2 separate regions of the Homo sapiens genome follow, and region 1 is linked to region 2. Evidence: fine-mapped expression QTL. A gene starts in region 2. The other region holds a variant in brackets. All regions are shown on one strand. Distances are between the middles of the regions.

What was found.
Region 1: its variant is fine-mapped to the expression of CYB5R4 in whole blood (TOPMed, PIP above 0.99).

Annotation. Positions count from the first base shown.
Region 1 is chr6:83,924,646-83,927,561 of GRCh38, reverse strand. The region is part of intron 12 of RIPPLY2-CYB5R4 (RIPPLY2-CYB5R4 readthrough); the gene reads right to left. All of the region lies in intron 10 of CYB5R4 (cytochrome b5 reductase 4), which reads right to left. Among named protein-coding and RNA genes, the nearest start is that of CYB5R4, 66 kb to the right of the region's middle. The variant C/T (reference allele first, on the strand shown) is at 1,226.
Region 2 is chr6:83,858,218-83,861,133 of GRCh38, reverse strand. It overlaps CYB5R4 (cytochrome b5 reductase 4), which reads right to left and starts at 1,445. Exons shown (of 16, transcript NM_016230.4): 1 at 1,277-1,445. The coding sequence starts at 1,351. The region is part of intron 3 of RIPPLY2-CYB5R4 (RIPPLY2-CYB5R4 readthrough); the gene reads right to left. RefSeq lists a silencer at 1,325-1,374.

The sequences.
Region 1 (2,916 bases), 66 kb before region 2:
AAATGATAAACTTAAATGTATCCCTGAGTTTTGTGAGCCATCCTAGCAAATTTTTGAACCCAAGAAGGAGGCTGTGATAACACTGATTTATAGGTAGCTGGTCAGAAGATAGATCACAACCTGGAATTTGCAACTGGCATGTGAAGTAGGGGGCAGTCTTGTGGGACTAAGCCCTTAACCTGTGGGGTCTGCCCTAAACTCCAGGATGTATCAGACTTGAGTTAAATTGTAGGATAGACAGTTTGCTGTAGAATTGGTTGTTGGTGAGAAGAAATCTCACATTTTAGTGTTCTGAGTGGAGCGGTAAGACTAGGAAAAAGTTTGTTTTTTCCTATCTCATGCAATAAATTATATATGATAATTTTACATATTTAAAGAAGATAAACTGAATACATGCAGTTAGTTCCTTCTGAATCCCCTAAAATAACAACAAAGAGGGTTTTTGTATGTGTGTTTGATTTTTAAGGCATAAGCCCACACAGACAGGAAGAACGGAAATCAGAGACAAAAGCAACAAAACTTTAGGAGCTGACAAGGCAGAGAGAAGACTGGTAAATGACTCAACAGACCCAAGACAGATGAATGCTAAGCCAGAAGTGTAGAAAGCCAAGAACCAACATGCTTATAATACAAAATTCCTTTAAGGCCCAGAAACTGGCAGGACCAAGTACCTCTGGCATCAGAGTCAAGGTAGAATTAAAATTACTTTCTCAATACAAGTTCATTTAAGAAGCTTGGATAGGTCTTCCCATCCCCTTGAAGTCCTCCCCTACTTAGCACAGCCACATGACTGACACTTCCCCACATGAGCAAAATATAAGAAGTTTGCACTCTAGAGGGTAAACAAGGGGTCTTTGGATTGGGTCTATGCTATAGACTGAATTGTGTCCCCTCACCAAACACATATGTTGAAGTCATAACCCCCAACACTTCAGAATGTGACGACATTTGGAAATGGGGTCTTCATTTAAAAGGTAATTAAGTTGGCTCTAATTCATTGTGACTGGTATTTTTATAAAGAGGACATTAGGACACAGACACACAGAAGGAAGACCATCTAAAGAAACAGGAAAAAAGGAGGCCATCTACAAGCTAAGGGAAGAAGTCTCAGAAGAGACCGACTCTGCCAAAGACACTCAGTCTGTAGTAGTTTGTTACTGCAGTCCTAGCAAACTAATATAACATTCTAAGAAAAAAAAAAAAAGAAAGAAAAAATTAAGTGACG[C/T]TTACAGATATACCAGAAGCTAGGCCCAGCCTTCTTCCCCACATGGCTTCTGAAATGCTGGGTACAAGGTAGGAGATTGTTCACTCTAGGGACTCTTGGCATTGGACTTTTCCCAAAGAAATGTTCCAGCCATATAGTGAATATAACCGTTGACAAGCCACACCCACATGCACAGTTTCCAATTAGCTTTACAGTCCCACCCTGAAATATGAGCAGATAGTAAAAGATTAGGAAACATTCAAAGAAAGCATTTAATATTAAAGACACCATAACAAATGAAAAACAACAAACCTGAGGGACACAGAAGTTATACAGTGAGAAGAAAACATTACCAGTCATTCTTTAAAAGATAAGCTAATAAGAATAGGATGCTAAAACAAAGGAAAAGAAATCAAAGGATTTATAGAAGTTAAAAATATGAGTAGAAATGAGTAACTCAATAGAAGAGCTAGAAGACACAGCTGAAGACATCTTGCAGAAAGTAGAACAAAAGGACAAAACTGAAAATAAGAGAGAAAAGATAAGATAATTAGAAGAACAGTTAAGGAAGTTCAATATGTAGAAAGTAAAACAGACCATGGGGAGAAGAAAAACCAATAATAGTTTCCAAGAACTGAAGATCATTAAGTTTCCATATTGAAAAGATTAGCACAAAAAATGTATACCCAGCATGAAGGATGAAAAATCATCCATGTTCTGGCACATCATTGTGAAATTCCAAAACACTTAGAACAAGGAGCAAATACTACCAATTTCCAAAGAGAAAATACAGGATATGTTCATTTTGCAAAGTATCATCAAGTAGAGCACTTCTAATATGCACCCTTTTCTATATATATGTTAAACTTAGATAAAAAGCTTTTTAAAAATGAAAAGAAATGAATGGTATCATCTTTTAGAAAAGATATGGTTTGGATCTGTGTCCCCTTCCAAATCTTAGGTTGAATTGTAATCCCCAGTGTTGGAGGTAGGGCCTAGTTGGAGTTGACTGGAGCATGGGGGCGGATCCTTCATGAATGGTTTAGGACCACCCTCTTGGTGGTGTTCTCGTGACAGAGTTCACACAAGATCTGGTTGTTTAAAAGTGTGTAGCACCTCCCCCATCTCTCTCCTCCTCCTTCTCCAGCCATGTAAGATGTGCCTGTTTTCCATTCACCTTCTGCTATGATTGTAAGTTTCCTGAGTCCTCCCCAGAAACCAAGCAAATGCCAGGACCATGCTTCCTATACAGCCTGTGGAACTGTGAGCCAATTAACCTTTTTTCTTTATAAATTATCCAGTCTCAGGCATTTCTTTATAGCCATGTGAGAAGAGACTAATACAAGAAGTAAACTGAGAAACCAGTTTAATTAAGAAGAAAAATAGTAAACATGTCTTCCTCATTAGGAAAAATATCAAGCAGACATACAAAGCATAAACTTAAACTTGTTTTTGTATCTTTCACAAAAGGGGACCTGAAAGAGAAAATGGTTGATCAACAGTCTAAGCACAAGTGGGCTTCTTCATTCAGGTATCATTACGTAATGACTTTGCTATGCCTAAACATTAGATAGTAGAGTCTGAAATTTAACTTCTATGGGAAAAAAAAGCAGGACAACACACATTGTCCCTTTCAAACTTCCTAGCAGTAGATACAAGGACCCTTCAGCTCATTTCAAAGCAGCCTTCCAAACTCTGGTACAACTGTACAA
Region 2 (2,916 bases):
AGTAACTCATATTCTAATTCAGAGATTCTTTCTGGAAAGACTGTTATTCAGTCAAGTATTTAGCTTCAAGAAATAGGTCAAAAACCAATGAGAAAAATATACATGATTGGATGGCTAGATGATTGATATATGAATCAGTAAATGAAATTTCACAGCAGAACCACAACACAAGCCTACGCAATTTAGGGCAATATTTCTTAGCCAGTTTCCTTTTCTGCGAAATAGAGACAATAAAAGCTTTCACTTCAAAGGATAATTGTGAAAATTAAAGTTAATACATGCAAAGCACTGAGAATATACACGGCCACCCGTAAGTACTTAAGAAATCTCTGGAAAGCTAATGAAAACCACAGATCCCTGAACCTATATTCATTCTGAACTAGAATCAGAACGCCAGGTCTAAGTGGAGAAAAATAAGAAAATCGATAAGGGTTCCAAACGATGCTAAGACTCAAGAGTTAACCGAGTGGCCCAAGTTAAGTGGAAGTGTCACAAACGAAAGATAAAGATATGGTTACAGAATGAGGAACTAACAAATAGGAACAAACAACATTCGCAAAAGAACAAAGAACACAATTTTTATTGAATTCTGCAAATATAAAATATATCTGTACAGTATTCCACCTGTTGCTAACAGCAACTGTGCTCAACAAGAACTCAAGAGTATTATTATATTTGCTTCGAAGTTAGCAAGTGATACTAGTAGAAAAGGCAATGACAAAACAATCAGGTACCAGAGGAAGAAAGAAAGGCAGTATGTCTTGGATAGTGTCTGTAAACCTGACCTAGCTCCCCAACTCCAGAAGTCCCCATCCTTGCACGGACGGTCACTGTCGCCACTGCCAAGCCTTTCCCTCCTGCGAGGGAACCCACATCGAGTGATGTGGTACAACTCCTTCAGGCAGTGAAGAACAAAAGACCAGGGAGAAGATGAGGTTGAGGGAAGGCGGCTAATACCGAGAGCCTATAATACCGCAAACACAGTGCCTGGCTCTGTCATATAAATTTAAATCGCGGGAAAGGACTTGGAGGAAGGGAACGGATAGAGCGGGATAAAGGACCAGAAAGAAGAGGGACTGCTAGGGGAAAGGGAGGAGGTAAGGAGAGTTTAGGGACTGTAGACAAAGTGGGATCAGAAAGAGGTTGCAGGCAAGGACAGCAGGGAACGACAGCTTAGAGAGGGGTGCAGGAGCTGGGAGTTGGGGCGGAAGAAGAGAACACACTGCCAGAGCTCGAAACGCAGCGAGGGGAGAGACTCACGGAGCCACCCGCTTACCTTGCTACGCCCCCCGGAGGCGACACGCTGCTGCGACCTGGGGGCCGGGAAAGACTGGGAAGGGACGTTCAGCATCTTCAAACCCCGGCCCCGGGCCCTGCCCGGGGATCGCCGCCAGACGGGACAGCACCTCCAGCTCCGGCTCTGTGGCCGGGCAGAGGCCAAGCCCCCGACCCACTTCCGGGGTCGCCAGGGGTGAGGCGCATTCTGACGCAGCACGTCCGCGGAGGGCGGAGCCAACGGGACGGAGGGAGGGCCGGCAGGGAGGAAGTACGCATGCTCAGCTAGTTCCGCATCCCGAACTTCAGCACCGGAGCAAGGTGACAGCTATTTCGTGGAAAGATTAGAGAGTGAAGCTGTTCCTTAGCCTTGGTGCTGACCGAATGTGGGAACAAATTCTTAGTCCTGTTAACCCGGAACAGCAATGTCTGTTCATTGTTAAGCAGTACCATCACACTACTTGAAATATGGACTAAAACACACTACTTGAAATATGGACTAAAACGAATTTTAGTTTCTCTGAAATTCTTTCCTGTAAGGCACTAGGCTGTAATGCAAAGAGCATCTCACACCTTTAAGAGCAAAAATATCAAATGTCAACAGCCACTACTGTGGGGTAAGAAGAAAACCTCACCTTTAATCATCCTTAAACTTCACCTTTAAGCATGCTGAGGGCTAATGAATGCGCGAAAGACGTTAGTAAAGTCACCTTCTGCTCTATTCACCCACTCACAAATTCTCCCTCCTTATGTAACTTCCTGTCTTCACTGGGAATTGTGTACTGATGCAGCTCACCTCCAGCTGTGGTGATGAAGTAACGTTTAAAAGTCAGATTTGGTTTGCATGCCATCCCTGCACTTAATGACTGAGCTGTCTTATGCAAGTTACTTTAGTATCTCAAAGTCTCATTTTCCCCATCTGCATAATGGGTTTATTAAAGATTAAAGGATCATGTGTAAACTACATACTGCAGTGCCTGATTAATATTAGGTACTGAATAAGTGGCAGTGGCTGTTTGTGCTATTCCAACATATTAATGGGAAAAGGACCAACACTGTGCAGGTAAACACCAGGCTCTAATGCTCAAAATCTGATGGTTTTTGTTTGTTTGATTGATTGTTTTGTGTGTCCCTTGGGGAACACATAGATCTTGAGAGTAGAATCCAATAAGGGAGAAAGTTTTCAGGAGAAGAAACATAGTTCTAAATAATCCTCCCCATCCTCCTTTAATTACTAATTTTTCCTAACTCTGAACATATTGTCATGCTTTAAACTTTCTCTGTTTAACTACTTAGTTCTTAAAGTGCCTAAAAAATCAAGGTTATGTTTGCAGAATCAGAAGAAAAAGTGTGTGACTATATGTGGCCATTCAAATACAAGCATTCAAATAAGGTAGCCACCTATGACATTCACCTCTATCCATTTTTATTTGCAATTGAAATGCTTATTATGAGAAGACTGAATTTGAGCTAAAAGAACCTCATGACTATAATTAACTGTATTACTTTGACTTTGCAAATTGCTTCTGTGTTCTCTCTCATTAAATGATGACATATTCTTCTAGAGTCTACACAAGAAAAACTAATCACTGAGATTTATTTCACTTCTCGTGAGAAAACTTTTACATAAGAATATCAAAA